Linked DNA regions of Homo sapiens. The protein of the gene in region 3 purifies or fractionates together with the protein of the main gene of each other region. This does not show direct contact. Each region holds a gene or a part of one and is shown on either strand. Other genes may lie near its edges. The genes, in order: SEZ6L2, ITPR3, TAFA4 and LRP11.

Region 1 (7,028 bases), on a different chromosome or scaffold from region 3:
GAGGGTATACCACAGGGCACCTTGGTGGAAGAAAGGCTGTGTGTGTGGAGGGAAGAAAAATCAAAAGAGACATTTAATAACTTGGAGCCTCAGTGTTCACACCTGCAAAACAGGTCACATAATCTTTTTTTTTTTGAGACAGAGTTTTGCTCTTGTCGCCCAGGCTGGAGTGCAATGGGACGATCTCGGCTCACTGCAACCTCTGCCTCCTGGGTTCAAGTGATTCTCCTGCCTCAGCCTACCAAGTAGCTGGGATTACAGGCACCCACCACCACGCCTGGCTAATTTTCGTATTTTTTAGAGACGGGGTTTTACCATGTTGGCCAGGCTGGTCTCGAACTCCTGACTTCGTGATCCACCTGCCTCGGCCTCCAAAAGTGCTGGGATTACAGGCGTGAGCCAGCATGCCTAGCCAGGTCACATAATCTTTGTCTGCTGACCTCAAAATCTCTGTGTGGACTCACTTTGGGAGCTGAACAAGCTCTGCAAATACTGTTATTACAGCTGGATGAAGTTCAGAGTAGTTCATTGATTTGCCTGAAGTCACACAACAAATGAGTAGCGGGGTCCAGAATAACTTGTTTGAACCTCAGATACCTCATCTATAAAATGGGGGCCAACGAGGGTGAATTACAATGAGTGGGGGAGATAAGGGGTGTTGGAGTTTCCTGTTCGCGAGGCAAGGTGCCTGTGTGAGGAGCTCTTATTTCTCGGTATGTACGCCAGTATGGAGCCAGTGTGTGCCCCTGGAAGGTTGGCCTGAAAGGAGAGGGGGGAAGTGCTGGGGGATCAGTATGAGAGGGTGGCATGGGAAAGTGAGCCCTGCTACCCGCTGTCTGTCTGGTGCAGCCTACCTCCTGAGCTGTGGCTTCCCTCCCCGGCCGGCCCATGGGGACGTGAGTGTGACGGACCTGCACCCTGGGGGCACTGCCACCTTTCACTGTGATTCGGGCTACCAGCTGCAGGGAGAGGAGACCCTCATCTGCCTCAATGGCACCCGGCCATCCTGGAACGGTGAAACCCCCAGCTGCATGGGTGAGTCTCCTGCCACAGTGGGTGGGGCATCTGTTCTGGGAACCCCATTGGGAGGGTCCTATCTCGGGGGTGTCCAGGTGTCCACCTTTGGGGAAAACCCATTCTGAAGGGGTGTTTACCCTGAGGAGTCCCCATCCTGGGGTCTGCAGCCAGAGCTCTTTGTGCGGAGGGTCTCTCTCCTTGGGGTTTCTCCATCCTTGGGTGGTCTCCATCTCGGGGTGTCCCACTGGAGATTTTATTTTGGGAGTCACCATTCTGGAGGTCCCTTCTGGGGTAGCGTCCTCATCCTAGAGGAAGCCATTTTTAGGGTTCATGTCCAGAGGGCTTCTATCCTAGAGAGCCTCTTACTGGGATTCCCATCCCGTGGTGTCTTCACTCTGAAAGTCCTGTCCTGAAGATTTCCCAGCTGAGGCTTTGAATTTTAGGGATCCTTGTAACTCCCCATCCTAGAGTATCCGCAGTTGGAGAGTCTTCATTTTAGTGGTGTCTCCATCCTAGGAGGTGTCAATCCTGGGGTTCTCCCGTACCGGGGCTGGTTTCTTTCCTGGCTCATGCCTGGAGAAGGTCCCATCCTCTGGAGTGACTCCATGGGACAGAGGCCAGCCCTGGGCCGGGTCCCAGCCAAATGTGTGAATGCAACAGTTCTGAAAACGGGCCGAGGCCCCGAGGAGAAGGACAGTTCACCTCAGGCTGGCCTTAACGTACCCCTCCTCTGCCCACAGCATCCTGTGGTGGCACCATCCACAATGCCACCCTGGGCCGCATCGTGTCCCCAGAGCCTGGGGGAGCCGTAGGGCCCAACCTCACCTGCCGTTGGGTCATTGAAGCAGCTGAGGGGCGCCGGCTGCACCTGCACTTTGAAAGGGTCTCGCTGGATGAGGACAATGACCGGTAAGGGTCTGGGTCTTGGGTCAGAAGTCCCCACCTTGGCCGGGCATGGTGGCTCATGCCTGTAATCCCAGTACTTTGGGAGGCCGAAGCAGGCGGATCACAAGGTCAGGAGATCGAGTCCATCCTGGCTAACACGGTGAAACCCCATCTCTACTAAAAATACAAAAAAAAAAAAAAAAAATTAGCCGGGCATGGTGGTGGGCACCTGTAGTCCCAGCTACTCGGGAGGCTGAGGCAGGAGAATGGCGTGAACCCGGGAGGCAGAGCTTGCAGTGAGCCAAGATCGCACCACTGCACTCCATCCTGGGAGACAGAATGAGACTCCGTCTCAAAAAAAAAAAAAGAAGTCCCCACCTCAGGGAAGTAGGGAGGCTAAGTGGGGACTTGGACACAGCTGGGGTGGATCCTGGTTGAGATATGCATCACAGCTTAGTCCTAAGCCTTTTTTTTTTTTTTTTTCTTTTTTTGAGACAGAGTTTCACTCTTGTTGCCCAGGCTGGAGTGCAGTGCCGCAGTCTTGGCTTACCGCAACCTCTGCCTCCCGGGTTCAAGTGATTCTCCTGCCTCAGCCTCCTGATTAGTTGGGATTACAGGCATGCACCACCATGCCCAGCTAATTTTGCATTTTTAGTAGAGATGGAGTTTCTCCATGTTGGTCAGGCTGGTCTCAAACTCCCAACCTCAGGTGATCTGCCCACCTTGGCCTCCCAAAGTGCTGGAATTATAGGCGTGAGCCACCACACCCAGCCAGTCCTAAGACTTTCTTAGGAAGTGTAGCTGTGAAACCTTAGACAAATCACTTAACTTCTTTGTGCCTCAGTTTCCTCATCTGTAGAATGGAGATAACAATACTTCCCTCTTCAGGTTTCTGTGAGGATAAGTGCTGAAATTATATAAAGTCCTTAGAATGGCACCTGGGACAATAAGCACTATAAAAGTGTCTGCTATCCTCTTTTTTTTTTTTTTTTAAGATGGAGTCTCACCCTGTCGCCCAGGCTGGAGTGCAGTGGTGCGATCTCGGCTCACTACAACCTCTGTCTCCCAGGCTCAAGCTATTCTCCTGCCTTAGCCTCCCGAGTAGCTGGGACTACAAGCGTGTGCCACCACGTCCGGCTAATTTTTTGTACTTTTTTTTTTAGTAGAGTTGGGGTTTCACCGTGTTAGCCAGGATGGTCTCGATCTCCTGACCTCGTGATCCACCCACCTCAGCCTCCCAAAGTGCTAGGATTACAGGCATGAACCACTGCACCTGGCCTTATTTATCTATTTATTTATTTTTGGAGACAGACTTTCGCTCTGTCACCCAGGCTGGAGTGCAGTGGCACGGATTCAGCTCACTGCAACCTCCACCTCCCAGATGCAAGCAATTCTCCTGCCTCAGCCTCCTGAGTAGCTGGGATTATAGGCATGCACCACCATGCCTGGCTAATTTTTGTATTTTTAGTAAACATGGGGTTTTACCATGTTGGCCAGCCTGGTCTTGAACTCCTTGACTTCAGGTGATCCACCCGTCTTGGCTTCCCAAAGTGCTGGGATGACAGGTGTGAGCTGAGCCACCATGCCTGGTCAAGCATCTGCTATCTTCATCATCATTATCATCCTTTACCTAGCAACTTGGTATCTCAGCCCTGCCACTACTTGCTCTGTGACCTTGGACAGGTTACTTGATCTTTCTATGCCCTAATATCCTCATCTATAAAATAAAGGATAATAATAGTGTCTGACTCAAGAGTTCTTGTGAAAATTAAATGAGATAGAATGTGTAAGGGCTTAGAAGAGTGCGTGGCATATAGTTATGTGTGATGATAACAGCTATAAAAATAAGTTAGGAAAGCAGGCAAGGGGTGAGGCAGCTTGTGAGGGAGATTGAGCTCCTGGTCACGTTTCTGTCCATCCCAGGCTGATGGTGCGCTCAGGGGGCAGCCCCCTATCCCCCGTGATCTATGATTCGGACATGGACGATGTCCCCGAGCGGGGTCTCATCAGTGACGCCCAGTCCCTCTACGTGGAGCTGCTGTCAGAGACACCTGCCAATCCCCTGCTGTTAAGCCTTCGATTTGAAGGTAAGTGACCCACTCCCCCACAGGACCCCAACCGCCACACCTTCCCCTCTTCCTGACACCAAGCATAGTCGGAAGCACAAACTCTATGCCTGTTCATCTCCGTGCTGGGTTCCTTGAAACGTGACTCGCTTCCCTGCCCCAAAACTGCAAGGATCTCTTCTAGGGACCCCTTCTCCTTCCCCCAGGCAGCCTTCTCTGTTTAAGCTTCATGAATGTCTGGATCCAGGTACATAGCCCAGAGACCAGTTATCTCAGTATCTCGGTTCTTTCCTCTGTGCTGGCTTCATCCTTAGGCACTTTCCCTGTGTGATGGACATAGCTGCCGACTTACATACCACCAACTTAATTTTTATTTTATTTATTTATTTATTTATTTTTTGAGACGAGTCTCGCTCTGTCACCCAGGCTGGAATGCAGTGGCGCCATCTTGGCTCACTGCAAGCTCCGCCTTCCGGGTTCACGCCATTCTCCTGCCTCAGCCTCCCGAGTAGCTGGGGCTACAGGCACCCGCCACCGCGCCCGACTAATTTTTTTGTATTTTTAGTAGAGACGGGGTTTCACCGTGTTAGCCAAGATGGACTCGATCTCCTGACCTTGTGATCCGCCTGCCTCGGCCGCCCAAAGTGCTGGGATTACAGGAGTGAGCCACCGCGCCCGGCCTTTATTTATTTTGAGACGGAGTTTTGCTCTTGTTGCCCAGGCTGGGGTGCAATGTCATGATCTCGGCTCACCGCAACCTCTGCCTCCCGGGTTCAAGCGATTTTCCTGCCTCAGCCTCCCGAGTAGCTGGGATTACAGGCATGCGCCACCATGCCCAGCTAATTTTGTATTTTTAGTAAAAATGGGGTTTCTCCACGTTGGTCAGGCTGGTCTGGAACTCCCGAACTCAGGTGATCTGCCCGCCTCCGCCTCCCAAAGTGTTGGGATTACAGGCGTGAGCCACTGCGCCTGACAGTTTTTAGTTTTTATTTATTTTTATTTATTTATTTATTTTGAGACAGAGTTCCTCTCTGTCGCCCAGGCTGGAGTGCAGTGGCGCGATCTCAGCTCACTGCAGCCCCCCTCCTCCAGGTTCAAGCGATTCTCATTCCTTAGCCTCCCGAGTAGCTGGGATTACAGGCATGCATCACCACGCCCAGCTAATTTTTGGGTTTTTAGTAGAGACGGGGTTTCACCATGTTGCCCAGGCTGGTCTTGAACTCCTGGGCTCAAGTGATTCGCCCATGTGGGACTCCCAAAGTGCCAGGATTACAGGTGTAAGCCACCTCCTCCAGCCCATACCACCAACCGAGTAACCTCATCAGAGAGAACACTCATATATTTCCTGAGAGCTCAGCAAAAATGCCAGGAGAGGCGTTCATTGACCTGACTAAGATCCTGGTTGGCCTTAGCCTGAGCCAATCACTGAGCTAGGAGAAGGGAGTATTGGGATTGGCTAATCTGCCTCACGTGGCCTTCCCTGGTGGGCTCCAACTTAACCTAGTGGACTGGGAGTGGGGAAGGCCTGCGTCCCAAAATTAAAATTGGGATGCCGTTACCAGAAGAAGAGGAATGAATGTGAAGGGGTAGAAACAAGGAAGTGATCATGGAGGAAGAGGCATTTCACCTTGGCCTTAAAGGATAGAGGGTATTTTATTATTATTATTATTATTATTGAAATAGGTCTTGCTTTGTCGCCCAGGCCGTAGTGCGGTGGCCCGATCATGGTTCACTGCAACCTCAACCTCCTGGGCTCAAGTGATCCTCCTGCCTCAGCCTCCCTAGTAGCTGGGACCACAAGCGTTCGGCACCATGCCTGGGTAATTTTTACATTTTTTGTAGAGACAGCATCTCACTATGTTGCCCAGGCTGGTCTCCAACTACTGAGCTGAAGTGATCCTCCCACCTCGGCCTCTCAAAGTGCTAGGATTACAGGCGTGAGCCACCCTGCCCAGCCAACAGAGGATATTTTAAAAGAGGAAGATTGAGGCCAGTTGTGGTGACTCGTGTCTCTAATCCCAGTACTTTGGGAGGCCAAGGTGGGATGATTGTTTGAGGCCAGGAGTTTGAGAACCAGTCTGAGCAACATAGTGAGATCCTGTGTCTACAAATTAAAAAAAAGTAATAATTATCCAGGTGTGGTGGCACACACCTCTAGTCCCAGCTACATGGAAGGTTGAGGTGGGAGGATCACTTGAACCCCACTTGAACCCCAGAGGTTGCAGTGAGCTATGATTGCACCACTGTGCTCCAGCCTGGGCAACAGAGCAAGACCCTGTCAAAAAAAAAGAAGAAAAGAAAAGAAAAGGAAAGAGAGGAACTTTGAGAAACAGCAAGTAGGGAAATGCCTGGTATGTCTGGGAAACAGAATTTCATTGTGGCTGAAACAGAGGAGTTGTATAAACAGTAGCAAGAGAGAGACCAAAAAGATGAAATGCTTAGAGATAGGAGGGTCTAGTGTTTGATATGAATCATGGGAGAAATGGAATTGGCACTCGGCTGTGATGGATGGGTAGGATTTGGACATGATACCTTGCAGGTTAAGTAACAGTGAAATAGAACAGTGGATCTGCAAAAATGAATTGCGGGATAGATTCTGGGAGTGTTAAAGTGCAAACAGCACAGATCTTTTACCGAAAATAGCAAGTTGTGAGTCCTGACTCCAGAGTTGTAGGCCACTGCTATTCTATGAGTTTAAGATTCTTCACTGTGGCCAGGCACAATGGCTAACGCCTGTAATCCCAGCACTTTGGGAGGTTAAGATGGGAGGATCACTTGAGCCTGGGAGTTGGAGACCAGCCTGGGCAACATAGCAAGACCTTTGTCTCTACAAAACAAAACAAAACAAAAAATTAGCCAGGTGTGGTGGTGCACACTTGTGGTCCCAGCTGCTTGGGAGGCTGAGGCAGGAGGATCGCTTGAGCTCAGGAGGTCAAGGCTGCTGTGAGTTGTGATCCCACCATTGCACGCTCCAGCCTAGGTGACAGAGCAAGGCCCTGTCTCATTTTTTTCCTTTTTTTTTTTTTTTTGAGATGGAGTTTCGCTCTTGTCACCCAGGCT
Region 2 (7,000 bases), on a different chromosome or scaffold from region 3:
TGCCCAGGTGAAAATGGCCTATGTGAACTTCGTGAACCACTGCTACGTGGACACGGAGGTGGAGATGAAGGAGATCTACACCAGCAACCACATCTGGACGCTCTTTGAGAACTTCACCCTGGACATGGCCCGGGTCTGTCCCTGTGAGGGGTGTGGGTGAAGCCCCCCAGGAGGTGTGGGAGTGGAGGGGCCCCATGTGAGGAGCCCCCAGCCATCCCTCTCTCCTGCCTCAGGTCTGCAGCAAGCGTGAGAAGCGCGTGGCTGACCCCACCTTGGAGAAGTACGTGCTGAGCGTTGTGCTGGACACCATCAACGCCTTCTTCAGCTCCCCATTCTCTGAGAACAGCACTTCCCTGCAGGTGAGCTTCTCCTCTCCCACCACCCCAGGGCCGACTTGCCTAGCTTTTGTGAAGGGAAGGGGGGAAATAAGAATACATATTTATATTTGCTTATAGTACAGAAAGAAGTAACAAAAGGATACATAAGTGTATTGGTTATCTTTTTTTTTTTTTTTTTTGAGATGGAGTTTCACTCTGTCGCCCAGGCTGGAGTGCAGTGGCGCGATCTCTGCTTACTGCAAGCTCTGCCTCCTGGGTTCACGCCATTCTCCTGCCTCAGCCTCCCGAGTAGCTGGGACTACAGGTGCCCGCCACCACGCCCAGCTAATTTTTGCATTTTTAGTAGAGACAGGGTTTCACCGTGTTAGCCAGGATGGTCTCAATCTCCTGACCTCATGATCCGCCCACCTCGGCTTCCCAAAGTGCTGGGATTACAGGTGTGAACCACCGCGCCCGGCCTAAGTATATTAGTTATCTATACCGTGTTAACAAATTATCCCCAAACCTAGCAGTTAAAACAACAAGCATTCGCTATCTCAGTTTCTGTGGGCCAGAATGACGGTGGGAATGGTACCATCCAGCAGGAACTCCTAACTCCAGTGGGTGGGCGGATCCCGGAGTGGCAGCACTTATTCACCAAAGATAAGGCAGACGTGCCATCCATGGGATGGTACAGCCAAAGCAGGGATCACGACAGTCTCCCTGGCAGGATCCTTCGTGCTGGCTAGTTGATCATAGTGATCTTAGAACTGAAATAGGCAGGCAGCCTTCTGAAGGCCTAAGCAGAAGGGCTCCAGGCCAGTGTACAGAAGCCTGATTTGAATCTCGAAAGATTCATGGCTCCTTGGTCAATCCCCAGATTCCCAGACTCGAGCCAGTGCTCAGCCCAGAGCCCCCCTGAATGAAAGCGAGCCAGGTTCCCTTAAGGAAGGGCCCTGCTACATGACCGAAATCAAAGAAACACTGGAAGGATACAAAAGAAACCCACAAAAGGGGCTACCTAGGGGCATAGGAGCTGGGGTGGGGTGGGATCGTGCTTCTAAGTCTGGGGGGAAAAATGCTGAGTCCTGCCTTCTCAGGAAGGGTGGTGTATTTTGACACACATTGTTTGGGCCCTGGGATCGCATTGGGACGATGGAACTCTGGTAATTGATATCAGCTTTCCCCATCCTTGATCAGCTCCAGGGCAATGAGGGTGATGGGGGAGAGACTTCTCAAAGTGTTATGTTTTTTTTTTTTGAGACGGAGTCTCACTTGGTGCCCCAGGCTAGAGTGCAGTAGCACAACCTTGGCTCACTTGCAACCCCTGCCTCCCAGGTTCAAGCAATTCTCCAGCCTCAGCCTCCTGAGTAGCTGGGATTATAGGCACCCGCCACCACGCCCGGCTAATTTTTGTATTTTTAGTAGAGACAGGGTTTCACCATGTTGGCCAGGCTGGTCTCGAACTCCTGACCGCAAGTCATCCACCCACCTTGGCCTCCCAAAGTGCTGACATTACACGTGTGAGCCACTGCGCCCAGCCTCAAAGTGTTATCTTTTAAATAACCTTTTGGTTTTTCAACCATGTAAATCCATCACCTTTTTATGACATTAATTTTTTTAAACATTTTTTAAAAGGGTCAGCAACATGGCTATGAGCCCACGGCCTTGGTGAGTTACAGGGCTGCCGTGTACAGTTGGGCAGGTCGTGCACTGCTGAAGGGAATACAAGTACCTTTTTCCAACTGGCACAGAGGCACATGGTGGCTAGTGAAGGCTCCGTCTCTCCACCCATGCCCATTCTGATTGGGCCCTGGTTCCTGGACCTGGGGTTGCCCAGGGTGGGGGCCTGGGCTGCAGCAGCGGGCTCTGTGACTTCTTGCAGACACACCAGACGATTGTGGTGCAGCTGCTGCAGTCTACCACACGCCTCCTCGAGTGTCCGTGGCTACAGCAGCAGCACAAGGGCTCCGTGGAGGCCTGCATCCGGACCCTCGCCATGGTGGGTGAGTGTGCCGGGGCACTGGCCAGCCCCAAACCACTCCTCCTGCCGCTCACAGTGGGGACGCCTGCCCTCCTAATAAACACTTTATCCCTAAGCTCGCCCATCTCCTGCTCCCAGGTGGTTGTCAGTAAGTTCTTCTTGGCGTCTGCCTCATCCTGGCAATTGAGAGAAGCTGTTTTCTCCTCTGGGTCAGTTCCCCAGAGAAGGATGCTCGCCGACATTCTCCAGCTAGTTTTTTATGGGTATTTGCAGATGGGCTCAGGCAGGAGCAGGCCTGTGGATTGTTAGGGACAGTTGGGGAAGAAGAGAGGACAGGTGAGAGAGAGGAAGGGGAAGTCAGGGTAGAGCCGGGGGGAATCAAAGAGGCAGAAACTCCTTTTACCCAACAAGGGGAAGAAAGCCTCTCAGTCCCTCAAGCATAGGCCGGGGTGGGGGGGGTCTCTGTCTCCCAGACCCTTGGTCTAGTTCACTCTGTCTCCTGGTGTGGCAGCCCTGAGCCTGGCCTCTGGCTGGCTGAACTGCCCCCGCACCAGCACTCCAGCACTCCCTCCCTTCCCACCCAGCCAAGGGCCGGGCCATCTTGCTGCCCATGGACCTGGATGCCCACATCAGCTCGATGCTCAGCAGTGGAGCCAGCTGTGCAGCTGCCGCCCAGCGGAACGCCTCCAGCTACAAGGCAACCACGCGGGCCTTCCCCCGCGTCACCCCCACCGCCAACCAGTGGGACTACAAGAACATCATTGAGAAGCTGCAGGTGGGTGTGGGGCTGCCTGGCATCTGCCTCGGGAGCTGCTTGGTTGAGTCAGCAGCTCCCCTACTTTGGAGGGGCAAGTTCTCGGGGAGTGTTTCTTCCTGTCCTGCCCACACTTCCAGGAAGGGGCTGGTTGGCTTCTCTACACTCTGGGGCTGCTAAGGGCCGACCCAGCAGCAAGGGACTGGGGAACCTCCTTCCAGAGGAAGCCTGGAGAACCCAGAGGCCTGCTAGTGGGGTTGGAGCTCATGAGGGGGTCGGGACCACCCCTCACTCCTGCAGCGCCCTCCTGTCTATGCAGCACATTTCTGTGCGCTGTCTCGTTGGCCTGTAGAGGGGGTGTGGTGGATTATTTTCCCCACGTGGCAGGAGACTGAGGCTCAGAGAGGCTAAGGGGTTTGCCCAAGGTCACACAGAGCTGGGAGAGAAGCCAGGCTTGGCAGCTCCCAGCCAGGGCTCTGAGCAGACAGACATCACGCTGTGTTCAGGGTGTCTCTGTGGGTGTGGGCCCCTCAGACAGAGGCAGGGCAATCTGTGGGGCTGTTTGGCGTTTGGGTCGGAGGAATGGCAGTCACACCCGGGTCATTTCTTGGGCCTGGCAATGACTCTGCCCTGCCCACCCCAGGACATCATCACAGCCCTGGAGGAGCGGCTGAAGCCCCTGGTACAGGCTGAGCTGTCCGTGCTGGTGGATGTCCTGCACTGGCCTGAGCTGCTCTTCCTGGAGGGCAGTGAGGCCTACCAGCGCTGCGAGAGTGGGGGCTTCCTGTCCAAGTGAGCGAGACACTGGGGCATGGGGGCAGCAGGGGTGCAGCGGCAGGGGACAGAGAAGGGCCCGGTGGGGACTAGACAGGCTCACTGGGTCAGAGGGCCTGGGGGTGTTCCTGCCTGGGATGGGGTGGGGAAGTAGCTGGAGGGAGGCAGTGTGGGGCTGCCCTGAGCTGCCTCCTTGGCCGGCTCAGGCTGATCCAGCACACCAAGGACCTCATGGAGTCGGAGGAGAAGCTGTGCATCAAGGTGCTGCGGACCCTGCAGCAGATGCTGCTCAAGAAGACCAAGTACGGGGACCGGGTGAGTGCCCTGGTGGGGCAAGTGCTGGGTGGGCCAGTCAGGAGTACCCAGGGGCTCAGGGTCAAGCCCGTCAGGCCAGTGGTCAGTGGTGGGCTGTACCCACAATGGGGCCTCACTCCCATCCTCCCCCAGGGCAACCAGCTGCGCAAGATGCTGCTGCAAAACTACCTCCAGAACCGGAAGTCCACCTCGCGGGGGGACCTTCCCGACCCCATAGGCACTGGTCAGTATCACCTTCCCCTGCCCCCGGGCCCTCCCTTCCACTCTCCTGTCACACCAGCTCTCCCTCAACCGAGTCCCGCCTCCAGGCCTGGACCCAGACTGGTCGGCAATCGCAGCCACCCAGTGCCGGCTGGACAAGGAGGGGGCCACCAAGTTGGTATGCGACCTCATCACCAGCACCAAGAACGAGAAGATCTTCCAGGAGAGCATCGGCCTGGCCATCCACCTGCTGGATGGTGGCAACACAGAGATCCAGGTGTGGGGGGCCTGGGGCCTGGACATGCCCTCCTTTGCCTCCCTCCCTTTTTGGAGGAGGTGGGCCTTGAGTTGGGCACTGAAGGCCGAGGAGGGTGTGAAAGAGGAGAGGCCTGAGCAGTGGCTGAGAGGTGAGAAGAGTGGGCATGATGGGGGCAGGGTGGTGAGGAGACGGGCTCAGGCCTGGCTGGGGCAGAGGGGTATGCGGGGGTGATGAAAGGACCACGTGACACAGGAGCAGATATGGGGCATGGAGCCGCCCATGGGTGGCCATGGATGCTAGCCACCAGCACCCAGGCCTGCAGCCAGGCCCCTGCAGCCCCAGCGGCCCCAGCAGTGTGGTGTGCCTGCCCCACGCCCTGAGTAGGAGCAGGGCCCAGTGCTGAGGTTGTTCCCTGGCCACTGTCCACCTCCAGAAATCCTTCCACAACCTGATGATGAGTGACAAGAAGTCAGAGCGCTTCTTCAAGGTGCTGCACGACCGCATGAAGCGGGCCCAGCAGGAGACCAAGTCCACGGTGGCAGTCAACATGAATGACCTGGGCAGCCAGCCACATGAGGACCGCGAGCCAGTCGACCCCACCACCAAAGGTCAGGGGTCTGAGGCAGAGGCACGGCGTGACGGGGATCCCAGGATAAGATGTGCAGGGGGGTGGCCAAGGGGGTGGGCAGCTCCAGCCTCACCAGGTCTCGCCCACAGGCCGCGTGGCCTCCTTCTCGATACCTGGCTCCTCATCCCGCTACTCGCTGGGCCCCAGCCTGCGCCGGGGGCACGAGGTGAGCGAACGTGTGCAGAGCAGTGAGATGGGCACATCCGTGCTCATCATGCAGCCCATCCTGCGCTTTCTGCAGCTGCTGTGTGAGAACCACAACCGGGACCTGCAGGTGAGTGCCTCGCCACACACCTGCCCCTTCCCCCGCTGGCCAGCCGGCATGCAGACTAGGCAGTGTGGCTGGTGTCCCTCTATGGCAGGTGTGCCCTGCCCTGGGCACTGCTGCTTTGTGGCTGGTGGTTCCCCTACCCCTGCAGCACACAAGATCGTGCTTCCCAGGCCAGCCTCCCTCTCCGTGCTGTAGCTGTGCTGTGCCCAACCCTTCTGTGCCCCGCAGAACTTCCTGCGCTGTCAGAACAACAAAACCAACTACAACTTGGTATGCGAGACGCTGCAGTTCCTGGACATCATGTGCGGCAGCACCACGGGCGGCCTGGGGCTGCTGGGGCTCTACATCAATGAGGACAACGTGGGCCTCGTCATCCAGACCTTGGAGACCCTCACTGAGTACTGCCAGGGCCCCTGCCATGAGAACCAGGTGAGCTGTCCTGGTGGCATAAGTGGCAGCCAGGGTGGCAGTGTGGACATGTGGGTAGATGGAGCCAGCTGGGGCAGGGAGAGAGGCTGAGGTCTCTGGAGCTGCCACTATTCTGAGAGGGCCTGGGCCCTGTGTCCCCCACTGCCTCCTGCCAGACTTGCATTGTGACTCACGAGTCCAATGGCATAGACATCATCACCGCACTGATCCTCAATGACATCAGCCCCCTGTGCAAGTACCGCATGGATCTGGTGCTGCAGCTCAAGGTGGGGCCCAGTGGCAGGTGTGTGAGTGCTGGGTGTGCATGTGATGTGCATGCATGTATGTGTGACTTGTGTGTCAAGTGTACATAGTGGTGTGTAATGTGGGTGTTAGCATTGTGTGATGGGGCATCATCTGGATGCACAAGTGTGTGGTGTGTGCAGGGTGTGTGTGTAATATACGCATGTTTAAGCATGCTGGAACATACACTCACTCTGGATGCAAATATATTCTGGTTTAGCTGAGGACTTGCTATGTGTGTGTCTGCTGTCTGGGTAGCTGAGTGTTTGCCACAGCGGGGGTGAAGGCAAGCCTATGGGTGGGCTGGCTGTGCAGGATGCTTCTCATTAAGCCGGGGGGAGGGAGGATGGGAAGGTCATGGCACCTGACCTTTTGTTGGATGGGAGAGCTGTTATGGAGAGGAATGAGGGAGAAGTTGTCAGGGGCATGGTGTCCTGAGACTGTGGCCTGCCTCCCTCTGCCCCTCCACCCAGGACAATGCCTCCAAGCTGCTCCTGGCTCTGATGGAGAGCCGGCATGACAGTGAAAATGCTGAGCGAATCCTCATCAGCCTGCGGCCCCAGGAGCTGGTGAGGCTGGGCAGGTGGGCAGGCGGGCGGAACCAGGTGGAGTGTGTTGGGATGGGGATGAGGGCCCGGCTGGCCCTACCGCCCTAGGAAGAGAGCATTGGAACAGGCACTGCCCCTCCAGGTGGACGTCATCAAGAAGGCCTACCTGCAGGAGGAAGAGCGTGAGAACTCGGAGGTGAGCCCACGTGAAGTGGGCCATAACATCTATATCCTGGCG
Region 3 (7,276 bases):
AAAGCTAGAAAGCTGGGGTAAATAAAAAAAAGTTAGAAAACAGTGCTTTGAAAATTTCAAAGACAAATGTAAAGGAATAGACAGATGCTTTAAAAACATTTAAATTTATTTTTATATATTTAGGAGGCACAAGGGCAGGTTTCTTACGTGGACATGTTGCATGGTGGTGAAGTCTGGGCTTATCGTGTACCCATCACTTGAATAGTGAACACTGTACCCAACGGGGAATTTTTTAGCCCTCACCCCGCTCCCACCCTCCCACATTTTGTAGTCTTCAATGCCTATTATTCTACATAGTATGTCCATGTGTACCCAGACAGAGGCTTTTTGCTTTTTCTCTGTTCTTTCTTCACTTGTTTCACTGTTCAACCACTCGAACACAGAGCTGACAGTAAGCGAGACTGTTTCAAGGCATAAGTCGGCCATTTAAAGGTGGTTTCAACCACGGGCATATTAGCCTTTTTGGAGTGTCAGTTTTCTCATCTGTAACATGGAGATTATAATAAGAGAATTTACCTTGTATTTACCTTTACTTATATTTACATGGATTATAAAGATGATAATCCGTGTGAAGTACATAGTATAGTGAGCCACACACAAGCCTCCAATTAAGTCAGCTATCATTCTTATTAGTCTCCTCAGAAAAATTACTAAGTGCAAAATTGTGTTGCAAATTTTTAAAACTGAAGCTTCGCTAGAAACAAGAGGATTTTTTAAACAGGCCCAGGAGAGTCAGAACGTTCCTTTCAGGCATAGTCAGTCATCAGCACGTATTGATTAAGCACCAGGACATGCCAGTAGTGTTCTGGATGTTATACAAATGAGGAAAGTAAACACAATGTCCAAGTCACGTGGTGTCACTACCTACAAATACAGAGGCACATCCAGGGGTGTTTTGTGAATGTGTGGTGTGTGCAAAATACCGTTGGCGTGACCTTCACAGGTTCTTACATAAGAAAATAAATCATTTGACCCCATTTTTAGGAAACAGATGTTGATTGATTTTACACAACCTCAAAGGATGCAAAATGGGTCGCAAAGAGAGAGAGAAAGAATGTTACCGAATGAATGACAGGAATGTTTTCTTGTAAGAGGAACTACTGTCTCTGCCTGGAACAATTTTTGCCCAGATATTCGCTTGGATGGCTTTTTGTCAGTTAGGTCTTGACTCAAACGTCACTACCTCATAGGGACCTTCTCTAGGCAGCCAATCTAAATTAAACCCATCCTCATATCCTTCTAATGCTCTAGCCTTCTTTTATTTTCTTTTAGCACTTATTGTGCTCTGAAATGACCTTATTCATATATTTGTTGAATTATTTACTGTCCAACCTTCCCCACAAGAATACACGCAACTCACATGTGCCTTGTTTGTCACCATATCCTAGAGCCTGGCTCACAGCAGGCGCTTGATAAATAGCTGAATGAGGAAACAATTGGATAATTGGGGCTTAGTGGCTATTTCTTTTTTTTTTTTTTAATATAGCTTGCCTTTTTTGTGGTGATTTGGTTAGTAAATCTCAATTTATCAGATCATTCTGGCTTCTTGCTACTGCACAAGAGACATCAGGTCATTGGAAACTTACAGATGAGTCCCTTAACTGTACTATCTTACTTTAGAAACAAACACACTTTTATGCTTGTATGAATTTGCTAGGGCTGCCATACAAATACCACAAACTAGGTGGCTTAAACAACAGAAATTTCTTGTCTTACAGTTCTGGAGGCTAGAAGTCCAAGGTTAAGGTGTTAGCAGGGTTGGTTCCTTCTGAGGGCTGCAAAGAATTTGTTACACGCCTCTCTTCTCCCTAGGTGGTTTGCTGGCAATCTTTGGCATTCCTTAGCTTGTGGAAGTATCACTCCATCTCTGTCCTGATTTCTACATGGTGTTCTTCCTGTGTGCATGTCTGTCTCCAAATTTCCCCATTTTATAAGGACACAGTCATACTGGATTCGGGCTCATTCTAAAGACCTCATTTAATTTAATTCCATAAAGACCCTATCTCCAAATAATGTCACATTCTGTGGTACTGGGGGTTATGACTTAAACATATAAATTTTAGGGAGACAAATTTGAACCTCTAACAGTACTGAACATCCAGGATGGAAGAACATGGTATTAGGTTGAGCCAAACACAGTTGCTTACGTTTTGGTTTTCCTCACCAGGACAAGAAACCCCCAGTGCAGGAAAATTGGAGACATGGAAAACAGGGCTTAAGTAAACACGCAGATCTTTGCCAGAACCATGTTTGTCACACAGTGTGGAAGCAACGAATATCTGGTGAACAAATGAATGTGGACTTGTTCTTCTAAATGACTTGCTCCCTCACTTCTTCCAAGTCTTGGTTCAGATATTACCTTCTCAGTGGGAACTAGCCTAACTACTGTTCTTAAAACCACCATCTCCCCAGTACTCACCTTCTTTTCTGTTACTTTCTTTCTCTCTATAACACTGACCACTTTCTATCAAACTCTGTAATTCACTTATTTGTCATGTTAATTGCCCATCTCTCCCTACTAGAAGATAAGTTCCATGAACTCAGGAACTTTTCACTGTTGTGTTTCCTTCTCTATGTACCAGCACTTGTTACAGCGCCTGACACAGAGTAGGCCCTCAGTTTTGCTGAGTGAGTGAATGAATGAATGAATGCTGTTGAGAAAGAGCTCTGGAATCTCCTGGCATGCTATTTCAGGTTTTGCTTGGATCTCCCCTTTGGCCGTCACAGAACTTCAATGCTAGTCTTTAAAGGAAATCTCAAAGATCAAGCGCCTATCTCCAAAGCTTGAATTCTCTCTTAAACTGGTGACATCTTGATAACAAATTGCCTTTGAATGTAGAACCCCCATTTTAATAATAAGAGAGTAAGAGATTGAAACTGTTTAACAAGTAAAATGTGCTATGGTATGTGTGGTACGGGGAACAGAAGCAGAAGGCCTGCCATACGTTAGTTCAAGGGGTAGAGTCAGAGAAGGGTGAACATACTTTGGAGTGCAGCAGGGGCAGGATGGCACATAATTGTATGTCAATGCAGAGTAAAAGGACCAGAAGATGATAAGCCAAGCCAATGACAGTGAGCAGCATAGTGGTACAGAGCAACGTTTTCTAACTTTATGCATGCACCAGCCACTTGGGCATCTTGTTAAAATGAAGATTCTACTTCTGGGGTGGGGCCTGAAAGTCTGCAGTTCTAAAGTGTTCTCAAGGGACCGCTCTACGACGCCATGCTTTGCATACTAAAGAGCATGGATTTACTAGTTACCTGTGTAATCTTCAGTAAACGATTTAACTTCTCTGTGCTTCAGTTATCTCATCTATAAAATAGAGATCAGATGAACTAATCCCAGTAAAATGAATACCATTAAGTGACACTGATTATCAGTTACTTCACTTGCGGAAGAGTGGAGGGCATGACTAGGAATGGGGTGGGAGGAGGGAGTCAAAGAAGTCTTAGCTGAATTTTTTTTTTTTTTTTTTTTTTTTTTGAGACGAAGTCTCGCTCTGTCGACCAGGCTGGAGTGCAGTGGTGCGATCTCGGCTCACTGCAAGCTCCGCCTCCCCGGTTCACGCCATTCTCCTGCCTCAGCCTCCCGAGTAGCTGGGACTACAAGCACCCGCCACCACGCCTGGCTAATTTTTGTATTTTTAGTAGAGACGGGGTTTCACCGTGTTAGTCAGGATGGTCTCGATCTCCCGACCTCATGATCCACCCGCCTCAGCCTCCCAAAGTGCTGGGATTACAGGCGTGAGCAACCGAGCCCGGCCCCAGCTGTATTTTATACATTAAAAAAGAAAAGTATTTAGGTATTCATACGTGGGCCGAGTTTTCTCCTCTCTCATACAAGCACATTACACGCGAAGCCAGATTAGTTCATGAATGTGCTACTGCACGGGGTGGCTAAGAAATCCTGCTTGCAAACCGCTTTGGGTCCTGCGTGGAGAATGGTTTCGAGTGAGAGCCGAACCCTAAATCCGTCTTCCTTATGTGGAGCTCAACGCGACTCTCAGGTATTCAGGAAGAATACCTTTTGCTCAGCACCTGCGGAGTGGTGGCCACAGCGAGGCGCTCGGGAGAGGCGCCTGGAGGCCGGCAGTGGGGGCGCGCCGCCTGAGCAGGGGTGCGGGGCGGGGAGAAGGCCGGCCCACGTGGACCGCGGGGCCAGGCAGGGACAGGAGCAGCCGGGCGGCCCGGCCAATCAGCGCGTTCCGCGGCGGGCCCGGCCCCTCCTGGTCAGCGCGCTAGCTGGGCTCGGCTCCGCACTGCTAGCTGCGCGCCGCCCTGGACGGGGCGCACCGACTGCGCGCGCGGCTGCGGGCAAACATCGGGAGTCCTGCCTCAGCTGCCGCTTCTCCAGCAGCAGCTTCAGGCTTCTCCCGCAGGAGCTTCGGGCTTCTCCTGGTAGAGACGTGGGAACTTTTCTTCTCCTGGCGAGGCTGCAGAGGTGATGGGCCGCTCCCGGGGCTCCCGCGGGGAGGCGGCACGGTGAGCGTCCTCGGGCTCCGGTGCGGCGATCAGTACCTAGTTCCGGACGCGCCGGTCCGACTTGGATGCCGGCTCTAGTCGAGTAAGAAGGGTTGGAAGGGATAAGGAGGGGCGAGAGGATGGGGTGGGGGTGGATTTGGACCCTGTATTTAGGTGCTGTCTCGTGGGCAGCCGCTGCCTCTCGGCTGGTACCGAGTTAACTCAGCTCGGTGCAGCTCCCCTCATCCCGGCTCTCTGGGGCGCCGGGGAGAGTGCCTGTGCTGAGGTCGGCGTGCAACCCGAAGTTGGAAGGGGCACTCCGAAGTAAGGATGTGTGGCTGGAGAGAGGCAGCGGCCGCTTCCAGTTTCGGGGTTCATGTCTGACAGAATCCCCGGGGGTGCTCTGCTGATGCGGAGGAGGCCACTCGATGAATTGGTATAGGGGGTGGTGAACTCACCGTGAGCTCTTTTCTGGACAAGTCGACCTTAGCGCTTCATCCCTTTAATCTGAGCTAGGATCTTTCTAGGAGCAAGCAGGTGGGAGCCGGTCAGCGTCCCCCCGCCCCCACCCCCACCCTGAAGCTCTGGTTGCTAGGATCTTGCTTGAAGGGCGCAGCGAGCGCTCGGGAGGCGTCTTCCAGCTGGGAGCGCAAAGCTTCCCGCCCAAGTGGAGAACTGGAGCGGGTCTGGAAGTTGCGTCTCTTTCCGCGGGAGGCATCTCAGATTTGCCCACCAAGGTGGCATCTCTACATTTCTTTCGCTCTTTTTCCCACTTTGCCCTGTTAATCCGCTCCTAGAAGAGAGGGCATCCTTGACCCTACGCAAGGAGCTCGGGAGAGGATTGGAACTGGAAAGCTTGATCTCCTGCACCTGGTGAGGCTGCCCAAGCCAGACACAGTGCCGCTGGTGCGTTTTCTTCTCGAATCAGCATCATTTAACGTTTAGGGGCTCCACGGAGCCTTAGTAAAGCTGTGAATCAGCTCCTAAGCAGTATGTACATGCACGGGTTCACGGACTCGCCGAGACCTAGCCTGGTGCCCATCCCCCGTCACCGAGATTCAGGGACCCCCCTTTGGTTTAACGTCTTTATCCCTGAACTCTTTTCCCTTTTAACTTTTCAATGGTCTTCCCTCTGAGACAAGCAAGGTTGATGTGATGTGACAGGCGATCCCCGTGTGTGGGGATGGGCGCCTTCGAAGCTTTGGTCTGTTTCTGTCTCTAATATCCTTGGCATAAAGCTTGTCCACCATAACTCGTAGCTGCCACCTGCAGACTCGGTCACCCAAACTTGTGCACACTGATGGCCTAGCTTCCTAATCACACGCATCTTCGTTTGGCCCCCTCTAGAACACTCGCTGAGGAGGGAAGAGGTGGGGGCAGTTTGTGTCAGAGCCCAGTTCAGGAAGGCCTTGGATTTTTTTAAAGGCTAAAATAATTTAGGAACAGCCATTTTGCAATATAATTAGTGTTACCACTCAGTCACTGAGAACAAATGTATGACTTGAAGAATTCTTCAATAGCTCGCGTGGGTTTTATAGTGAGAAGAATTTCTGCTAAGTTTATAGTCATATCAGTGTGAAAGCCCAACACTTCCTCTAGATGGGAAATACAGGCCTTAATAAGGTAGTGTGAGAGCAGTTTTCAGAATCATTATGACGAATGATGACTTGTGTCCTCCCAAAATGACCGAGTGAGTTGGCATGGCTCATTTGTGGAAGAAGCTTTCTTCATATGCACGGACATTTCTTAATCAATATTCTCATAGCAGAAAGCCGTATTTCAAGGTTCCCTTCCTAAGTTCTTCTGTCTCATTGTTCTGCTTTGCGTGACTTTGCTTTCATCCCTCAGTACCATCTTAACTGCCCTTTGACACTTTAAAATTTATTATAAGGCTTCAAGTCACAATTTGACTTGGCCACTTTTCCCTGCTAAAGATAAGTAAGTTGTCCTGTCCAGAAAAGCAGTGGCTGCCAATTTCTCTATCTTTGAATGACTTTAATTGTATTACTTGTTCCCTTAGCACATACAAAAACCCCTACAAATATCTCTGCTTGATTATTGGATATTTTTCATTGAAGGCAACCATTTTTATATTTCTAGTACTAGAATATCCTAGGTCACTTGAATTTCAATATTCATTTTCTGATCTTTTTAGACATGTGTATTGTTTGATGACCTAGTTCCATTTAGTAATTAAAAAAGAAAAAGAAGAAACTCCTTTGCTCCCCGCTACCACCTCCTTTTCAGTGGTACCTAGCCTTTTCCTAATAGCTGCTTTTTTTCTGCACCACTCATTTATTGTTACACTTAATATAATACTTTGCTATGTAAATGGCATGTTGATGCATGTGATATTAAAACTGCATTCACTGGGGATTAACCATTGGATATGACATCATCAGCAGCCAATCCTTGATCTGATTTGAACATGCATTGACAAAAGTCATATTATCATATTGAGCAAGTGATTCTATATTGCCTGTGATGAATAAGGGAAAGAAGGAAGTCTTTTTGGCACTTACTAACTCTCCGTTAGCTGCCCAGTTTGAGAGTTTTGGGTATTTCTATACTAAGAGGCTTAGCTTAATAATAACATTCTCAGATTGCAATTTTATAGATCTCTTTAGAATTTGCATAAGTAGATTTTCCCCCTTGTGCTTTCTTCCTCTTTGCGAGTTTTTCACCCTGTGTTCTGGCTCTGTTTCTTTACAAATATGTAAAGACATCACAGTAAATGGACTAATCTTTTGCTTTTATTTTTTGTCCTAGAGATAGCCACGTAGGTGATGGGCTAATTTGAGTACATGAGTTCATT
Region 4 (7,998 bases), on a different chromosome or scaffold from region 3:
GCATTGCCTGAGTCAACGCAGAAGACAACTTCTCAGGATTTTCCCCAGTTACTACCACGTCCTTCCTCTAAGAACGGCCTCTCTTTCCATCCTCAATGAGGAGAGGGAAGGCCATGTTTGTAGCCCTGTTTGTGCCTCATGGTCTCTGCACACTAACCTCAGTTTAGGGTGGACACAGGACCAAGCTAGACTCATCAGAGTCTCTCTCTTGGTACTGATGGTCACTGTTCTGAGTTTCTGTTCATTGCTGCAGGTGAGGTGAGATAGACTCAGGCTCTGTGCATGGAGGGCAGAAAACTCCAGACTCTGAGAGAAGCATGAATCAGATGTGCAGAGAGAAGTGGAGATCTCAGACTACTTGGTCCCAGAAGAGAGAAGCAGCAACTGGGAGACCAGCTGCTTGACTGCTGAGGGTTCTGCCATGTCTGGTCCAGGCCCTCCCAAGGCCTGGCTGCATTTCCTCCCTGCCTGTGAGTGCATGTGTGTAAACACGGTAGCTATTTTTTCTTTAAACCAATCTAAAATGAGTTTCTGTTGTTTGCAATCCACAGAGATTTAACTAGGATGAACCTAGATCACTGAGCTGCAAGGCAAGAACTCCATGAGAGGAATTCCAGGTAGAAGGCCAAGTAGGTGCTCAGGGGAGAGATTTGAGACCAGAAAGTGTCAGGCAACTCCTGTCTTCACTCCCTCCCTCTCTCAAGGCTATGTATGCACTGTTCTCTATTTCCTCTTTTCACGGTTCCATTTGTCCCCCTCTGCTGAACAGCTTCTCTCTGCTATCATCCCCTTCCATGTCCCCTGGAGCTCACCTGGCTTCCCAGCTACACTTCCCTCCCTGACTCAATTTGTTGAGTCAGTTTGTTGAGTTGATTTGCTGAGTCAGTTTGTTTCTCAATTCTGTTTTTACATTCCTTGGAGAGAGTATCTGATTGGCTGTGCTTGGGCCAGGCATTCATTATTGATTCCATCCCTAGTGAACAGGGGGTGTGGCCACCTGGGGGTTGGGGCTGCCCCTTCCAGGGACGTGAGCAGAGCAGATTCCATGAAAGGGGTATGGAGAAGGAAGAATCTTAGTGCAACAGCCACTCAGCTGGGATGTTGTAGAGGAGATTCAGGCTTCAAGTGGTTTCATGACTTCTAATCTTAGGAAAGGTCCTTCATTTCTGTTGTAATAACAACAACAACTAGCATTTATTGAACTTCTATAATGTGTCAGATGCCCTTCTAAGCACTTCACATGCACTGACTTAACTTATTCGATGCCTGTAAAAGTACTTAGATGGGCAGTAGAGGGGAGGGGAGGGCAACAAAAAACGATGTCACTAGGGTGTTGCTGTAGATTGGATGTTTGTAACCCCCCAAAATTCCTATGTTGAAACCTAATGTGATGATGTTTGCAGTGGAGAATTTGGAAGATGATTAGGGCATGAAGGTGGAGCCCTCATGAATGGGATTAGTGTTCTTATAAAAAAGATCCCAGGCCAGGCACGGTGCCTCATGCCTGAAATCATAGCACTTTGGGAGGCTGAGGCAGCCAGATCATAAGGTCATGAGTTCGAGACCAGCCTGACCAACATGGTGAAACCCAGTCTCTACTAAAAATACAAAAATTAGCCAGGCGTGGTGGTGTGCGCCTGTAATCCCAGCCACTCAGGAGGCTGAGGCAGAAGAATCGTTTGAACCCAGGAGGCAGAGGTTGCAGTAAGCAGAGATTGTGCCTCTGAACTCCAGCCTGGGCAACAGAGCGAGACTTTGTCTCAAAAAAGAAAAGAAAAGAAAAGAAAAAAATCCCAGAGAGCTCCCTAACTCCTCCCACAAGGTGAGGACTCAGTGAGAAGACTGCTGTCTATGAACCAGGAAGTGGGCCCTCACCAGATATCAGCGTCTGCCAGCACCATGATCTTGAACTTCTCAGCCACTAGAATTGTGAGGAATAAATTTCTGTTGTTTAGAAGCCTCCCAGTCTGTGGTATTCTGTTACAGCAGCCCAGCTAAGACACAGGTTATCTCATTCCAACATTCAACAAACTGACCTACGAAGTCCAATCTCAATTTGATCCACTCTTACTCTTAATGATCTATCTTATAAAACAGAAACACATCTTCCTGACATTTTCATCCTCACATAAAAATTCTTCTATCCATTGATAAGGTTTTGATGTTTAGGCTTTTAAAACAAAGATAGTTTATTTCTGAAAAAAACTGAAAAGAGAACTAGAAAAAGAAGATAAATCACAATGCACAGTGCAATGAAACTTCGTTTTTAAAAAATAGCCTTATTAACATATAATTGACTATACCCACTTAAAATACACAATTTGATGAACTTTGATCAATGTATTCACCAGTGAAACCATCACCACAATCAAGGTAATGAACACACCTATCACCTGCAAAAGTTTTCATGTGCTTCTCTGTAATCCCTTCCCTTCCTACTCAAACTCATGCCTCTTGTCACAAGGTTTCTCCACTCTGGCTGTTGGGAACGAACTATTGCCTGGCCAATGCAAGCTCAGAAGTTTTTCTGCCAGCTTTTTTCTAGTGGTTGCCTCTCTGTCTTGGGAAGTTTCCTCACATGCATGTACCTGGTCGAACTTCTGCTGAAGACTCAGAGGAACCCTGCACAGATCTCCAGAGCTCCCTCCTTCCGTTGCACTCTCTCCTCTCTGGTACTCTAGCCACCCTGGCCTCCCTGAATTCTCAGCTCTATTTTCCAACTCAGAGTCTCTTTTGGTTCGCCTGTCTGCATTGCGGCTTGGAAACCCTCTCCAGGCAGTAAGCTGGAGCAAGCAGCATGTTCACTTCCTTTGTCTCCCTTCTCTTGGGCCCTGCATTGCCTGTTGCCCAATGTCTGAAAACCATTGTTCCATACATTTTTTTCACAGATTTTTCATTTCAGGTCACAGAGTAAGTCCAGTCCTTGTTGCTCCCTCCTGGCTGAAGCAGATGTCAACACTTATTTTTAAAAAATAGAAAATCATTTACAACAAGCTCATTGCAAAAAAAAAATTCAACAAAGTCTTATAAATTATAAAAGTCAGTATTTCCCCTTCAGTACTTGCAACTCACAGCCCAGAAATAACCACTGCTCACGGTAAACACAACATTAAATAATTTCCACTTCTCCCAAAAAGACCTATTGTAAAGTTGCAGATGCAGGAAAATCTTTGATGGTGCTGGAGGGATTTAGAAATGAATGCCCCTGAGAAATGCTGTCCTCTCCCCTGTCCACTTCCCTACCACGGAACATGTGAGCTAGGGCTCACTCTATACTGACTTCTCTTTCACGGTCCCAAAGGCAGGAGTGAGGTGGTCAAAGTCTCTGTGAAGGCACATAAAATCATGTATGTGAAAGTGTTTGGCAAACTTTGAAATCATGTACAATTCTTAGTTAATATTATATATTATCATGTTATTTTTAATATTAATAACTTATATAACAACTAGTCCTTGGAGGGTTTGATGATACCCTCAGTCAGCATTTTCATCACTAGTGAAAGTTTCTCCTCATAACAATCCTGCTCAAGCTCTCCAAGGTCTATGGCAAAAAATAAAAATAAAAAATAAAAAGCATTATGTTGCTTCAAGGTCATCTTACAATGACTGCAGTTGTGTGGGATGAGTATGCCATATGAGGAAGAATCTCCAGGCCGAAGTGGTACAGTCCAGACACAGCCTTTAGAGCTAAGAGGCCATTTCTTTTAGCCTCAAAAATCACTCAAATATACCCCTGCAAAAACTTTATAATTTCTCCCTTTGATGGAATGGCAAGTAACATTGAGCTTTTTTCTTTCTTTTCTATTGCTACCTTTTAATTTTACCTCCTACTCTGATCTGGATCTGCAAGCAATGGGTTCCTAAATGTCAACTCTGGAGATAATAAACACATAGCAGAGACTGATATTTTCCCACCAATTATTTATTCTTTCAATCCTAAAAAATACAGACACTTAACAGTGTTCTATTTACAATGTGCGCATCCAGGCAAAAATTTCCGGACAGGCTAAAAAGCAAGAAAATGCGATCCACAATCAGGAGAAAAATGAATCAACAGAAACTGATTCAGAAACAAACAAGATGCAGATGCTGCTCACAGAAGTCTAGAACGCCAAGGTGAAGCCCCCACTGGGTTGGACATTTTCTTATTCCTTATGTCATTTAAAGCACAACTCCCGAGATTTTACGTGATATAACCGCTAGAGGCCTCTCTGTCACAGGCTGTATTACTCCCAGGTCCCCATGTTGGCTGTGTTCAGATTTTTTGTTATATTTGTGGAAATCTGAGTGCATGTGACGACTGCTATTTATGGGTTTTGTTTTTATTTTTAAAGACAGGGTCTTGTTCTGTCCCCCAGGCTGGAGTACAGTGGTGTGATCACAGCTCATTGCAGTCTCGAACTCCTGGGTCCAAGCCATCCTCCCAACTCAGCCTCAGGACTTACAGGCGAGTACCACCTCACCAGGCTTGATTTTTGTGTTTTTAAACAGACTGAACATCTTTCAGTACTTCCCATCCCCACCCCTCCCGGCCCTGACTCCGCCACCCCAACCCCGCCCCACTTTGTACTACCCAAGCACATCTTGGGAACATGATGCGGAAAGTCAGGGACGCTGGAGGTGAAGGACTGATGACGCGCTACGGTGGTCCTAGGTGCGCGTGCCCCCTCTCTGGAGTAGTCCCGGGGGTCACGAGGATTTGAAGACAGGCCCTCCCTTCCCACTGCCCCCATTCCCCCGAATGCCAAGCCCCTGTGGGCAGGCGCCCTGGGCAGGTGTGGTTGGTTGCTAAAGCCTGCTGGGCCCAGACATGAACCCTGCCCTAGCTGGGCAGCGGCGCGGGAGCAAAGTTGTTCTGAGGCTGCCCTCCCCGGGGCCTGCTCTCCCAGCCCTGGAGGAGCCGGCGCGAGACGCGCGGGGGCGGGGCCGCGCGGGGGGGCGGGGCTCACCAAGGCTCCACCCCGCCGCGGCCACTGTTCGCACACACCTGGTGCTGATCAACGCCGAGGCCGACTCGTCGCCACCCAGCGCGCCGCAGGCCGGGGCGGAGAGGCGCAGGGCGCTGGGCAGTCTCCGGCGAGGGCAAGGAGCGGTGCCCGGCTGGGCCGGCTATGTCTCCCGCTACTGCGGTTCCCGCCGGCGCCCGCGACCTCGGGGGAGCAGCCGGGTTCGGGGGCGCCGCGCTGTGAGGCCGGGGCCTAGAGCCAGCCGCGGCCGCGCAGGAGGGGCCCAGGGCCCGCGCTCGCCCGCGTCCCCGCCTTCCTCCCGCGCTCAGCCCCGCCTCGGCTCGCTGCCCTTGGCTCTCGTCGCCATGGCCTCCGTCGCCCAGGAGAGCGCGGGCTCGCAGCGCCGGCTACCGCCGCGTCACGGGGCGCTGCGCGGGCTGCTACTGCTCTGCCTGTGGCTGCCAAGCGGCCGTGCGGCCTTGCCGCCCGCGGCGCCGCTGTCCGAACTGCACGCGCAGCTGTCGGGCGTGGAGCAGCTGCTGGAGGAGTTCCGCCGGCAACTGCAGCAGGAGCGGCCTCAGGAGGAGCTGGAGCTGGAGCTGCGCGCGGGCGGCGGCCCCCAGGAGGACTGCCCGGGCCCGGGCAGCGGCGGCTACAGCGCAATGCCTGACGCCATCATCCGCACCAAGGACTCCCTGGCGGCGGGTGCCAGCTTCCTGCGGGCGCCGGCGGCCGTGCGGGGCTGGCGGCAATGCGTGGCGGCCTGCTGCTCCGAGCCGCGCTGCTCCGTGGCCGTGGTGGAGCTGCCCCGGCGCCCCGCGCCCCCGGCAGCCGTGCTCGGCTGCTACCTCTTCAACTGCACGGCGCGCGGCCGCAACGTCTGCAAGTTCGCGCTGCACAGCGGCTACAGCAGCTACAGCCTCAGCCGCGCGCCGGACGGCGCCGCCCTGGCCACCGCGCGCGCCTCGCCCCGGCAGGGTAAGCGCGCGACTGAGGGGCCGGCCTTGGCCAGAGCGCTCGAGACCCGCAGCGCCCTCGCCAAGTTGGAAGCGAAACACACTCGTGCCAAGTTATTTTAGCCGCGGGCACCCAGAAGAGTTTCTGGCATGGGTTTCTCTGTCTTAGGGAAGAGGAAGCCCAGTAGTTTGGCAGAAGCGGGCGGGCGGGCGCGGTGACGTGCTACTGGAATTTTTCTAGGCTTGAAGAGAAAGGCTGATCTGAGAGGATTCGTGGAAATATGACTTAAAAGGGGAGAAATGCTGAGAGAAAAAAGTTTGTTTTAGTCTCATGGGTTGTATAAGGCATGGTTTGTGTTAAGTAATTGCAAGAGCAAAATCTAATTAGATGCCGGGCTTCTCGTAACACCCACTCCTTTTTCTTGACGTGGCTCTCCTGACTTTGCCTGCGGTGGCTTTCATCATACAAAAATGGGAGGAAAACTTCTGGTCCCTTTTATAAAAAGTGAAAAGAGGGGACTTGATTTTCGTTGAAAATAAGAAACTTTAAGGCCGGGCGTGGTGGCTTATGCCTGTAATCCCAGCACTTTGGGAGGCCGAGGAGGGCGGATCACCTGAGGTCAGGAGTTTGAGACCTGCCTGACCAATGTGATGAAACCCCATCTCTACTAAAAATACAAAAATTAGCCAGAGCTGGTGGCATGCGCCTGTAATCCCAGCTATTCGGGAGGCTGAGGCAGGAGAATCGCTTGAACCTAGGAGGCGGAGGTTGCAGTGAGCCGAGATCGCGCCATTGCACTCCAGCCTGGGCAACAAGAGCGAAACTCCATCTTAAAAAAAAAAAAAAAAAAAGGAAAAGAAAATAGGAAACTTTAAAGCGTGTTTCTTAAGGACTAAAAATGATGCTGATTCGACGGTTTGACTTTTTGTAGATGCTCTGAATGAGAGAATCAGGACACATACAGGAGGCACAAAAATGGTAGTGGTTGGACATGAATGTCACGGAGGGAATAAGAGACCTTGATTGTGCCCACGTGTGGTCAGGCTCCGTGTGTTTAATCATGCCCTGTTGCTGTTTGATTTATAATAGCACGAATGATATCAGCAAGATGGGGGCGGAGCTCAGCCCCTTTGGAAGTGTGGATTCTCCAAAACCTGTGGATCCATTGAAAGAGTCTGGAAATCTGTGTCCATCACATCCTGCCTCCCTCCCCACCTCTACCTTAGATGAGGCTCAGAATCCTTGTCAGGGGAGCAGATATCAAAGGGTCACCCTGCGACTGCTTGGCCTTGAGGCAAACACTGGGAAGGACTCCATAGCTTTCCTTCTGAAGTGGAGGCAGGCAGCACTTTCACTTGGACCCCCCATCAGCATCTCTGAGGCCCACCACGGCTGTTGCACACACATCCTCTCTGCCCAAACACAGACCAAAATATCCCAGCAGCAAAGAAACAAAGTCTTTTCTCTGTGTTCTCACTACTTACCTGGAAGAAACTGACATTGCCAAAGTGAGCTTTCCTATAAACCCAGAGGAAACCTTTGAAAAGGAAAATAAACAAGGAAAGAATATGCCATAGAACAAAAATTTTAAAGTTTAGATTACTTGGAGACGCCAGGCACGGTGGCTCATAACTAACCCCAGGACTTTGGGAGGCCAAGGCGGGTGAATCACTTGAGGCCAAGAGTTAGAGACCAGCCTGGCCAACATGACAAAACCCGTCTTTGCTAAAAAGAAATAAACACAAAAATTATCCTGGCATGGTGGCGCCTGTCTATGATCCCAGCTCCTCGGGCGGCTGAGGCAGGAGAATCGCTTGAACTGTGGTGGTGGAGGTCGCAGTGAGTACAGATTGCGCCACTGCACTCCAGCCTGGGCAACAGAGGGAGACACTGCCTCAGAAACAGAAACAAAAACTTCAGGTTACTATGAGAAGTTTCTGGGTTGTTTTTCCTCTTGCTTGCTTCGTTGCCCTTCCTTTCCCCAGGGGAGTTTGTCTAGGAATTGTTTTGTAGATGTTTGGGATGAAAATAGGCGAGCGCGGTGCTGGTCCTCATTTCTGGGAGAACACTGCTGTGCTCAGACTTCCTGAGGTCC

Evidence for each region.
Region 1: the proteins of TAFA4 (region 3) and SEZ6L2 purify together in Homo sapiens (affinity purification with mass spectrometry; 2 studies listed by BioGRID and IntAct, with this or other methods). This does not show direct contact.
Region 2: the proteins of TAFA4 (region 3) and ITPR3 purify together in Homo sapiens (affinity purification with mass spectrometry; 2 studies listed by BioGRID and IntAct, with this or other methods). This does not show direct contact.
Region 4: the proteins of TAFA4 (region 3) and LRP11 purify together in Homo sapiens (affinity purification with mass spectrometry; 2 studies listed by BioGRID and IntAct, with this or other methods). This does not show direct contact.

Annotation. Positions count from the first base shown.
Region 1 is NC_000016.10:29,882,547-29,889,574, reverse strand, and holds part of SEZ6L2 (seizure 6-like protein 2 isoform 5 precursor), read left to right. Parts: intron 1-849; coding exon 850-1,035; intron 1,036-1,757; coding exon 1,758-1,926; intron 1,927-3,825; coding exon 3,826-3,989; intron 3,990-7,028. UniProt on the Homo sapiens protein: May contribute to specialized endoplasmic reticulum functions in neurons.
Region 2 is NC_000006.12:33,680,322-33,687,321, forward strand, and holds part of ITPR3 (inositol 1,4,5-trisphosphate-gated calcium channel ITPR3), read left to right. Parts: intron 1-7; coding exon 8-133; intron 134-233; coding exon 234-359; intron 360-2,202; coding exon 2,203-2,323; intron 2,324-2,885; coding exon 2,886-3,076; intron 3,077-3,698; coding exon 3,699-3,847; intron 3,848-4,035; coding exon 4,036-4,144; intron 4,145-4,276; coding exon 4,277-4,367; intron 4,368-4,452; coding exon 4,453-4,622; intron 4,623-5,037; coding exon 5,038-5,212; intron 5,213-5,321; coding exon 5,322-5,506; intron 5,507-5,731; coding exon 5,732-5,932; intron 5,933-6,087; coding exon 6,088-6,198; intron 6,199-6,687; coding exon 6,688-6,783; intron 6,784-6,904; coding exon 6,905-7,000.
Region 3 is NC_000003.12:68,929,528-68,936,803, reverse strand, and holds the start of TAFA4 (chemokine-like protein TAFA-4 precursor), read left to right. Parts: upstream 1-4,256; 5' UTR 4,257-4,564; intron 4,565-7,276. UniProt on the Homo sapiens protein: Modulates injury-induced and chemical pain hypersensitivity. Ligand of FPR1, can chemoattract macrophages, promote phagocytosis and increase ROS release.
Region 4 is NC_000006.12:149,861,334-149,869,331, reverse strand, and holds the start of LRP11 (low-density lipoprotein receptor-related protein 11 isoform 1 precursor), read left to right. Parts: upstream 1-4,972; 5' UTR 4,973-5,311; coding exon 5,312-5,924; intron 5,925-7,998.